Linked DNA regions of Homo sapiens: regions 2, 3 and 4 are each linked to region 1. The links come from fine-mapping of genetic effects on gene expression. A gene starts in region 1. Each other region holds a variant in brackets. All regions are shown on one strand. Distances are from middle to middle.

Region 1 (2,685 bases):
GCTTCGGTCTCCCAAAGCACTGGGATTACAGGCGTCAGCCACCGCGCCCGGCCTAGGAAGGTTTCTTAATTGTCATTACTTTCCAGGAGCACAGGGCTCAGGTAGAATTCAACGTTGTCAATATGCAGGGTTAAATGAGTTGTTTACTTTACAAAAGTGACATCTTAAATGTGCTTCTAATGTCCTCTTGTTTCATAATATGCTTGTATTATAATACTTAATTAGTCTCTACGGATGACCACGTTCTTAGTTTCAAAGGTTTTTTTGAGGTTCCTGCAGCTGCTAAACTTGGGGTTCCTGAAGTAATATTTCATTTTCGAAAGCTGTTTTTTTTCTTAGACTCCTCTTACAGAATTGCCAGCTCGTCTGCACAGCCTGTCTATTTGAACCTACGTTTATTTTGACCCACCCCAACCCCCAAAGCAGGTGGCCAGGAAAAAATAAAAGGTCCCAACACCTTTTCTTTTGTTTTCTGGATCTCCTCCTTTCCGGAAGCAGGGGGTCAGTGACAGGAACTTTTCGACCCCAGCTTAGTGTCTCTTAATCCCTCTTTAGCCCGTGGAAGCCTCGGAAGGCGTGGCCAGGGCAGGGCATCCAAGCCGAGCGCCGGGGGTTGGCACCGTCTCTCTCCCTGGCACGGCGGAGACAACTGAATACTGAAAGACAAAACCAACACACCGCGAGGAATGAGCCACGCCTCCATCCACGCCACAAAGGCACGTTTCCAAGATCTTTTTAGGATCTTACCCATGTTTTGCAGGGAAAAGCGACACAGACCTGAAGCGCCTTCAGGTTTTTTTTTTTTTTTTTTTTTTTTTTAAGACGACGTCTCCCTCTGTTGCCCAGGCTGGAGTGCAAAGGCGCGATCTTGGCTCACAACCGCCGCCTCCTGGGTTCAAGCGATTCTCCTGCCTCAGCCTCTCGAGTAGCTGGGACTACAGGCACCCGTCACCACGCCCGGCTAATTTTTGTATTTTTAGTAGAGACGGGGTTTCACCATATTTCCCAGTCTGGTCTCGAACTCCTGACCTCAGGTGATCCACCCGTCTCGGCCTCCCAAAGCGTTGGGATTACAGGTGTGAGCCAACGCGCCCTGCCAGCCTTCAGTTATTTTAATGAAGCGATTTTGTACAAATCAGCCAGAGGGAGGGAGAGTGGGAGGGAAGAGGAGGGGTCAGCCAGTCCTTCCAGTTAGGAGAGTCCCGGCTCACTCACTGCTTCTAACTCACTGCTCACTCACCGCTTCTTAGCTTAGGAATCACCTACAATAACCTCGTGTCACTGTATCTTGTGATTTCAAACAAGGAACCCTAAAAACCTGAAGGCACACTGGGTGCCGCTCAACAATAAGGCTCGGCTGCCAAGACGAAAAAAAAATTGCCCTTTCTCCTCCTGCCACCCTGGAGGTGCCAGGTTGTAATCTGCAAATGTATTGTCTGGCCCTTAGGGCTTGACAGTTAATGATTGGTCGCTGAAGGAGCCGAGCGGAGGAGCGAGAGGGACGCGAGCAAGCGAGCGAGGGAGGGAGCGCAGGGCCAGAGCGGAGCCCCAGCCGGCCGCACAGGCACCGCCTCCCGTCTTCCGGGACCCGGCACTTCGGGGGTTTTGGGCGCCGGAGACGCGCAAGGGCGCCGATGGAGGCAGACTCGCCAGCGGGCCCCGGCGCCCCAGAGCCCCTCGCGGAGGGAGCGGCGGCCGAGTTCTCCAGCCTGCTGCGCAGGATAAAAGGCAAACTCTTCACCTGGTGAGTGGAAGGGGCGTGCTGCAGCTCCGCTGGGGCGTGGGGGCGGCTGCGGGCCCTGCGCGCACGTGGACAAGGAGCACACTCTCTGAGGCCCCCAGCAGGGAGGCAGAGGTGGCGGCCGCACGGACTTCGGTTCGGGGCTCAACACGCACACCAGGTATGGTGCGCTTCACCTGGCGTCGGGAAGCACTTGGTGCGTCTCCCTCGGCTCCCGTTTCGAAATCGTGGCGATGTATTTTGGAGGATTTGGGGGGAAACCCACCCTGTGGCACTATTAGGTCGGTCCTCTGGGGCGTTCCGCGGTGGAGGGACGAGGTCCCCGGGGATGCTGTGAAGGAGGAGTGCCCACCTCGGGCTGGGCAGGTGGGTGAGCGCCACTTCCTGGCGCCGGCGCCCTCATTCCATCTGCTGCCGAGCCAGCCAGACTGGGCGCGGTGATTCAAGAGTTGACCGAAGTGAGAAATCCTGGTTAAGTTTTGTGCTGCTGCCGGGTGGGAGACCAGAGCCGGCTCTCTCTTCCTGGGCCTGAGCGAGGTGATATAGCCACCCCCAGGGCTGGGGTCCAGGGAAGCCTGTTTGTGGTATCACTATGCTCTGTGCGAAGTAGGGACAAATGTTTTTAAGGAGTGGGCAGCGACTCTAGAAAGCGTTTCTGTGGTTGCTGGAGGACTTGCACTCTGGAAATGAGAGAACCCAGGACCTAAATAGTGAAAGACATTTATTGGGCACTCGCTCTGTGTCAGGTACTGTGCATAACAATTTATATGGATAATATCAGCTAATCCTCACCACTTTAGGAGATGGTACTATTGTTATATCCACTTTGCCGCTGGAGAAACAAAGAAGGCTAAGCAATTTGCCCAAGGCCACAAGATGATCTTTAAGGGGTGATGCGTTCAAGCCGTAGTCTAAACAGCGTTGGCCACTGACAACTCATGAAA
Region 2 (2,685 bases), 21 kb after region 1:
GTAGAGACGGGGTTTCACCATGTTGGCCAGGCTGGTCTTGAACTCCTGACCTCAAGTGATCCCCACATCTTGGCCTCCCAAAGTGCTGGGAATACAGGAGTGAGTCACTGCGTCCAGCCAGAGCCAGGGTAATTTGTACCAATTGATCTCCCTGTATGGTATCATAATTGTCAGTATTACATATGGTATATTTTATTGTTGTCAGGGAAGTAGTGTATGGAACGGGAAAAATGTAGACTTACTAATTTTCTGATCTTGGAAAAGTTACTTCTGAACAGCTGAAACTGTTACAACTATTTTTCAACAGTATAATGGTACTAATAATCTCTATCTCACAAGAGTTTTTGTGATATTTAAGAGAAACTTATCGGCCAGGTGTGGTGGCTCATGCCTGTAATCCCAGCACTTTGGGAGGCCGAGATGGGCAGATCACCTGAGGTCAGGAGTTCGAGACCAGCTTGGGCAATATGGCGAAACCTCATCTCTACTAAAAATATGAAAATAAGCCAGGCATGGAGGTGCACGCCTGTAGTCCCAGCTACTTGGGAGGCTGAGGCAGGAGAATCGCTTGAACCCAGGAGGCAGAGGTTGCAGTGAGATGAGATAGCGCCACTGCACTCCAGCCTGGGGGACAGAGCAAGACTGTCTCAAAAAAAAAAAAAAAAAAAAAGAGGGCCGGGCAAAGTGGCTCACGCCTGTAATCCCAGCACTTTGGGAGGCCGAGATGGGCAGATCACCTGAGGTCAGGAGTTCAAGACCAGCCTGGCCAACATGGTGAAACCCCATCTCTACGAAAAATACAAAAATTAGCTGGGCGTGGTGGCGGGCGCCTGTAATCCCAGCTACTCGGGAGGCTGAGTCAGGAGAATCGCTTGAACCCAGGAGGTGGAGGTTGCAGTGAGCCGAGAGTACGCCGTTGTACTCCAGCCTGGGTGACAAAAGCAAAACTCCATCTCAAAAGAAAAGAAACGAAAAGAAACATCATATATAAGTACTTAGTATGGCACCCACACACATTTATTTTTATTAAGCCACTTCACTTTTGTTGAGGTAAGAAAGGTTTTATGAATCCCTAATAAATGCAAGTAGTGTACTTGCAGTGTAACAGTGGTTATGAGCTCAGCCTCTGGAGCCACACTGCTTGGGTTGGTCTCCAGGTTCTGCCATTTGCTAGTTGTGTGATATTGGGCAAGTTACTTAACATCTCTGTGCCTCCATTTCTGTTATCTGTAAATAGCAGTAATAATGGTACCCATCTCAGGATTGTTGGGAGGATTAAATCAATTAGCGCTTGGTATATAGTATACACTCAATAAGTGTTAGATGTCATAATTATTATTACCATTACT[A/G]TTACTAGATATTGTGAGACTATGTGTGTATAAGGTGGGGGTGGGTGGGTGGCAAAAAATCCATAACACGATGTCTGCATTTAGAATCTAGTAAAGCAAGTGGAACATATAAAACACTACAGGCAGAATATAGAAAATGGAAAAAGAGGATTGCAACCAAAATGTCATAGGAATTTAGAGGTCATCATTCTGGTAGTGGGTGCCTTTCTTACTATCTTTATTCCCACAATTAATTTACTTTTTTATTTTTATTTTGAGACAAACTCTCACTCTGTCGCCCAGGCTGGAGTGCAGTGGTGCCATCCCAGCTCACTGCTACCTCTGCCTCCCAGGTTCAACTGATTCTCCTGCGTCAGCCTCCCGAGTAGCTGGGATTACAGGTCTGTGCAACCATGCCCAGCTAATTTTTTTTTTTTTTTTTTTAGTAGAGACAGGGCTTCTCCATGTTGGCCAGGCTGGTTTCGAACTCCTGACCTCAAGTGATCCACCTGCCTCGGCCTCCCAAAGTGCTGGGATTACAGGCATGAGCTGCTGCTCCTGGCCTTATTTCAGTTTTTTAGCATGGCAGAATGTAAAGAACACAGGCTTTGGAATCATATTTGGATTTTAATCTAGTGCTGCTATTTATTTGGCACATAAACTTGGTTAAAAGACTTAAATGCTGCCAGAATGATACATATATAGTGTTGTATGAACATGCAGTATGTTAATATACGTAAGAGCTCATCAGTGGCTAGCACTTCCCTGTCTTTTATTATGTAGGGGATGGGACAGTACTAATGTGTCCCCTGTGTTCTTCACTAAGTCACATGGGACATAATGCATAAGAATAAATCACTGGATTTATACTTTCAATTTTTGTTGGTTTCCATGGAACTAGTTCAGCAGTTTCTGGCTTGATGGCCTGGTTTTATTTTCTCCCTGGCAAACGATGAAAGTGTTTCAATCCAAGGTAGCTCCCAATCAGCTTTGCCTGCAGTTTTTTAATAGACTCTTTATTTGATGTGATTATTTTGTTACTAAGGAAATTCGCTGAGATGAATGTAAATAGTTATAACATTATGATTCAAGTGTTGTTTTAAAGTATCACATGCATTGTTGACTTTGTATATTCGTTTTCTATTGCTGTCATAACAAATTACCACCAATTTAGTGGTTTAAAACAACACCAATTTAATATCTTACTGTTCTGTAGGTCAGAAAGCCAACATTCATCTTCCCGGGCTAAAAATCAAAGTGTTGCAGGTGTTGCATTCTTTTCTGGAGGTTTTAGGGGAGAATCAATTCCTGGCCTTTTCCACCTTCTGGAAGCTGCCTGCCTTCCTTGGCTTGTGAC
Region 3 (2,685 bases), 67 kb after region 1:
TGAATAGCACACATTGAGAGGCTGTTGAGCAGATGCCCCTTCTGTACTTCCACATTTCATCATAGTCTTACGTTCCTCTGCTTCATACCAATATTGTAAGCAGTGTCTAGGGTCTGAATGGGGCTCTCTGTGGTATCCATGATGACCTTTTATTTTCTCCACTAAGTGGGACTATATGCAGAGTGGGGTGTAGCTGGATTATGACAGAGAAAAGCAAAGGTCCATTTCTCCTAAAGATCCAAGGATCCAGGTGGCTTATGTGCCGGGTGCTGTTGGCAGAGTCCCATCATTCACCAGCATACATGGGAAGGTTTTGTGCATTAGCATCTCCTTAGGTAACTTTCAGAAAAAAGATCATGAGGCCAGGCATGGCGGCCCACGCCTGTAATCCCCCGCACTTTGGGAGCCTGAGGCGGGCGGATTGCTTGAGCTCAGGTGTTCGAGACCATCCTGGGCAACATGGAAAAACCCCGTCTCTACAGAAAACACAAAAATTGGCCGGGTGTGGTGGTGAGTGCCTGTGGTGTCAGCTACTCTGGAGGTTGAGGCGGGAGGATCACTGGAGCCTGGGAGGTGGAGGTTGCAGTGAGCCGAGATTGTGCCACTGCACTCCAGCCTGGGCCACAGAGCGAGACCCTGTCTTAAAAAGAAAGAAAGAAAGAAAGAAAGAAAATAAAAAGATTATGAGAGGGTAATCCTCGAAGCACAGTTGGCAAAAGCCAGCAGCAAAGATGTGTATGTGAGGGGCACAATTCACTGCCTGTTCTTCCCTTCTAGTTTTCAGGACTCTACATCCTGTCCTTCACTGTCATCATGGTGGGGTTTATCCTGTACTGCTCCACCCCTACTCGCACGGCCGAGCCGGCTGAAAGCAGCGTGCCTCCAGTCACCAGCATTGGGATTGACAACCTGGGGCTGAAGCTGGAGGAGAACCTCCAGGAGACCCACTCTGCTGTCTTGTAGCTGGAGAAGATGGCGCACCCATCCCCCACCAGGATAAAGCAGAGCCTGCTGCCTGCTGAGGGGACACTTGGGGAAATAGCAGACTCAGAATGGACACTCTACAACCCTGGGTTGGATCCAGTGGTTAGGTTTTAGAAAGGAACACTGAACAAAGTTCAAAAGTAGAAATACCAAAATAGAGCAGAAACCAAGCTAAGAGTGTGTTTCTGTGTTTGAGGACCAATATCTGTTCGTGTT[G/C]AGGAGATGAGGTGCAGACTCCACACTGGGGTCTTAGAGGCACCAGTGGGAAAGCAGGACTGGGGAGAGATCCAGGACTGAGCCAGCCTCAGGCCAGGGCGGGAAAGCAGGCTGTCCAGGCTGGGCTTGGTGGTCAGGAACAGGGGCAGCTCACGGTGGCTCTGGAGTACGTTTCCTCTGTCAGATGCTTCAAGGTTTTTTTTTTTTTTTTTTTTTGCTGAGGCAGTTATTGTCCACAGGCCTTTGGGTACAGATGAGGCCTTGGGGCTGACTGCATGTGGCAGAAAACGGGTGGGTCAGCCCTTGAAAAGTCTTGAGATATAAGTGTGAGTACTATACAAGCATTAAACTGGAGTGCAGTAAACCTAGGAACCTTCCCACAATTGTTTTTTTGTTTGTTTGAGATGCAGAGTCTAGAGTGCAGTGGTGCAAGCTCAGCTTACTGTAACCTCTGCCTCCTGGATTCAAGTGTTAGTAGCTGGGATTACAAAAGCATGTGGCCCCACGCCCAGCTAAGTTTTGTATTTTTAGTAGACATGGGGTTTCACCATGTTGCCCAGGCTGGTCTTGACCTCCCGACCTCAAGTGATCTGCCTGCCCCGACCTCCCAAAGTGCTGGGATTACAGGCTTGAGCCACCGTGCCAGGCCTGTTTTGTTTGTTTTTGTAGAGAGATGGGGTTTCGCCATGTTGCCCAGGCTAATCTCAAATTCCTGAGCTAAAGCGATCTGCCCACCTCGGCCTCCGAAAGTGCTAGGATTACAGATGTGAACCACTGTGCCTGGCCTGTTTGTTTGTTTGTTTAAAACATTTCTCCATCACTCATTCCAGGTCCCAGAGCAAACTCTCTCTGCTCTCGGAGCCTGTGACACTGGCTATGTGCTCCACAGTTTCAGTCCCAGGTCATACTCTCCAACAGTTTTCAGAGCTCCATATATATGTAGATGCCATCCTTTCTAAAAACTTCTCACGACCTCCTGGAATATTCCTATTGATCTCATTTTATTTAGCATCAGCTCAAGAAACTAAGTCTTAGTGCACAGTATCACAACAAAGAAAAAGCTTTGTTTTTATAACTGGTAAAAACAAGAAAAGATTCTCATCAAAATGAAAATATAAAATTAATCATTTCTCACCAAAGAGTATGCCTGGGAGCCTCCAGCTGTTAAAAGACAATGCTATTACTACTTCTTATCAAAAATCTGTAATGCCCTGTGATTTTTATGATACTTCTTCAATACAAAGTGTTAATATGTGTCATCAGTATAATAACAACCAACAAAATGCCACTTTCAGAAAACTGTATGTAAATTTTTTGTAACAATGTAAAAAAGAAATGGGGAGTAAGTGTTCACATCATTAAAAGGCTTTGAATTCATGGAAATACATCAACTGTGTGGTTTCTTTGATTAACCATTTCCCCTTGTGGATTTTTTTTCCAGTAAAGCCGTCCTTCAAAACCCTTGTGGATTTTTTTTTCTTCTTT
Region 4 (2,685 bases), 38 kb before region 1:
CGCTTGTCACCCAGACTGGAGTGCAGTGGCGCGAACTTGGCTCGCTGCAACCTCTGTCTCCTGGGTTCAAGCCATTCTCTTACCTCAGCCTCCCAAGTAGTTGGGATTACAGGTGCACGCCACCACACCCAGCTAATTTTTGTATTTTTAGTAGAGATGGGGTTTCACCATGTTGGCCAGGCTTGTTTCTAACTCCTGACCTCAAGTAATCCGTCCACCTCGGCCTCCCAAAGTGCTGGGATTACAGGTGTGAGCCACTGCACCTGGTCCCTACAGTCTTTAAAAGGAATAATTCATCCTTCATGCAGTTGCCTTAGTCAGAAGCCAGGGACTTAGCCTAGATGCCTCCATCCTCTCTACCCATGGCATCCAGTCAGCACTAAACCGTGTTGATTCTATTTCCTACATATGTTCAACCGTGTCCCCTTCACTTCATTCTTAACTCAGGCTCTCATCATCTTTTGCCTGGACTATTACAATTGCCTCCTAACTAGTGTTTCTGCCCCCTCCTTTGTATAACACACATTAGTGACAGAATGATGGTGGCATTCCCATGCTTCCAGGTGCTGCAGCTCCTCAGGAGGCATCAAGTGCTTTATGGCATGTGCCTGCGACCTCTATGACCTCTTCTTTCACTGCATCTCCATGTGCCCTCTGTGAGCCAGCCATATCCCATGTGTTTGAAGTTCCTCTCCTTTTTGCCTGTAATGTCCTTTCTATCTCCTTGGCTGTCTACCAAATTCCTACCTTTATTTTCTTTTATTCTATTTTATTTTATTTTATTTTATTTTGAGACAGAGTCTCACTCTGTTGCCCAGGCTGGAGTACAGTGGCACGATCTTGGCTCACTGCAAGCTCCACCTTCTGCATTCAAGCAATTCTTCTGTCTCAGCCTCCTGAGTAGCTGGGATTACAGGCACCTGCCACCACACCCGGCTAATTGTTGTATTTTTAGTAGAGACGGGGTTTCACCACATTGGTCAGGCTGGTCTTGAACTCCTGACCTCAGGTGATCCACTTGCCTTGGCCTCCCAAAGTGCTGGGATTACAGGTGTGAGCCACCG[C/T]GCCCAGCCCCAAATTCCTACTTTTTAAGGAGCTGCTTTTGCCATCTTGTCAATAAAGTCATTCTTGATCCCCTTTCACTCACTCTATACTGTCTCTTGCCACTCAGCCTCAAGAGCTTCTTCTCCATCTCCTTCTCTTTCTTCTTTTTTTGAGACAGAGTCTCACTCTGTCGCCCAGGCTGGAGTGAGGTGTCACGATCTCAGCTCATTGCAAACTCTGCCTTCTGGGTTCAAGCAATTCTCATGCCTCAGCCTGTCCAGTAGCTGGGATTACAGGTATGTGCCATCACGCTTGGCTAATTTTTGTATTTTTAGTAGAGATGGGATTTCACCATATTGGCCAGGCTGGTCTTGAAATCCTGGCCTCAAATGATCCATCCACCTCAGGCTTCCAAAGTCTGGGATTACAGGCGTGAGCCACTGCACCTGGCCAAGAGATTCTTCTTTTCTACTTCCAAAGCACCTTCTATTCAACTCTATCTGGAGACCATACATGTCTGCATTTAAGAGCCCAGACTCTGGAGTTAGCAAATGTGGGTTTCAATCTATCACTTATTAACTAGGTAAATTTTTTTCTTTTTTTTTCCTTTTTTTTTTGAGACAGTCTCACTCTGTTGCTCAGGCTGGAATGCAGTGGTGCAATCTTGGCTCACTGCAACCTCCGCCTCCCGGGTTCAAGCAATTCTCTGCCTCAGCCTCCCGAGTAGCTGGGATTACAGGCACCTGCCACCATGTCTAGCTAATTTTTGTTTTTTTGTTTTTTTTTTTTTTTGAGACAGAGGCTGGCTCTGTTGCCCAGGCTGGAGGCCAGTGGCATGATCTCGGCTCACTGCAAGCTCCTCCGCCTCCTGGGTTCACCTGCCATTCTCCTGCCTCAGCCTCCAGAGTAACTGGGACTATAGGCGCCCACCACCACGCCCGGCTAATTTTTGTATTTTTAGTAGAGACGGGGTTTCACCGTGTTAGCCAGGATGGTCTCCATCTCCTGACCTCATGATCCACTCACCTTGGCCTCCCAAAGTGCTGGGATTACAGGCTTGAGTCACCGCGCTCGGCAATTTTTGTATTTTTAGTAGAGACCTGGTTTCACCATCTTGGCCAGGCTGGTCTTGAACTCCTGACTTAGTGATCCACCCACCTCGGCCTCCCAAAGTGCTGGGATCACAGGCGTGAGCCGCCAAGCCCAGCCATAAATTTTTTTCTTAAATTTTTTTTTTTCCTGCTCACCGTCCACCGTTATATGACCTCTTTAAGCCCCAGTTTCCTGTTCTATAAATGGAGATAATATTTGATACATGGTAAGCACTTAATATAGTAATAATAATAAGTATTTTTATTATTGCATTATTTAACTTTATTTTAATTGGCGATTTGTATGTATGGCTTCCTCTGCTGTCCATGCACATCTGAGGTCAGAACTTTGTTAACTAATTATTTAACAACATTAAGCGCTTATTATGATGTGCATATGTAATACATATGTGCACTTATGTAACCCTCTCAATGTTCTATCTGAGTCTAAGTTTGCTTGACTCCTAAATTCATGCTATTTTACCATACAGCCTTTTGGTTTGAATATTAACCTCTTTTTTTTCTTTTCCTTTTTCTTTTTTTTGAGACA

Which allele goes with the higher level. Positions count from the first base shown, and alleles are read on the strand shown. Sizes are in standard deviations (SD) of each study's normalised expression. Not every link is listed here.
With allele T in place of C in region 4, the expression in lung of the gene that starts at base 1,615 in region 1 is lower (small effect, 0.21 SD a copy in GTEx).

Evidence for each region.
Region 2: its variant is fine-mapped to the expression of SLC35F2 in aorta (GTEx, PIP 0.99). The same link has a PIP of 0.9 or more in tibial artery.
Region 3: its variant is fine-mapped to the expression of SLC35F2 in whole blood (TOPMed, PIP above 0.99).
Region 4: its variant is fine-mapped to the expression of SLC35F2 in lung (GTEx, PIP 0.93).

The regions. Positions count from the first base shown.
Region 1 is chr11:107,857,717-107,860,401 of GRCh38, reverse strand. SLC35F2 (solute carrier family 35 member F2) reads left to right here and starts at 1,615. Exons shown (of 8, transcript NM_017515.5): 1 at 1,615-1,744. The coding sequence starts at 1,635. LOC124902746 (a long non-coding RNA gene) reads right to left here and starts at 1,172. Exons shown (of 2, transcript XR_007062876.1): 1 at 748-1,172; 2 at 1-656. RefSeq lists a silencer at 1,490-1,799 and an enhancer at 2,020-2,089.
Region 2 is chr11:107,836,613-107,839,297 of GRCh38, reverse strand. The region is part of intron 1 of SLC35F2 (solute carrier family 35 member F2); the gene reads left to right. Among named protein-coding and RNA genes, the nearest start is that of SLC35F2, 21 kb to the left of the region's middle. The variant A/G (reference allele first, on the strand shown) is at 1,350.
Region 3 is chr11:107,790,893-107,793,577 of GRCh38, reverse strand. It overlaps SLC35F2 (solute carrier family 35 member F2), which reads left to right. Exons shown (of 8, transcript NM_017515.5): 8 at 778-2,587. The coding sequence ends at 963. Among named protein-coding and RNA genes, the nearest start is that of SLC35F2, 67 kb to the left of the region's middle. The variant G/C (reference allele first, on the strand shown) is at 1,201.
Region 4 is chr11:107,895,411-107,898,095 of GRCh38, reverse strand. No RefSeq gene overlaps it. Among named protein-coding and RNA genes, the nearest start is that of RAB39A, 32 kb to the left of the region's middle. The variant C/T (reference allele first, on the strand shown) is at 1,065.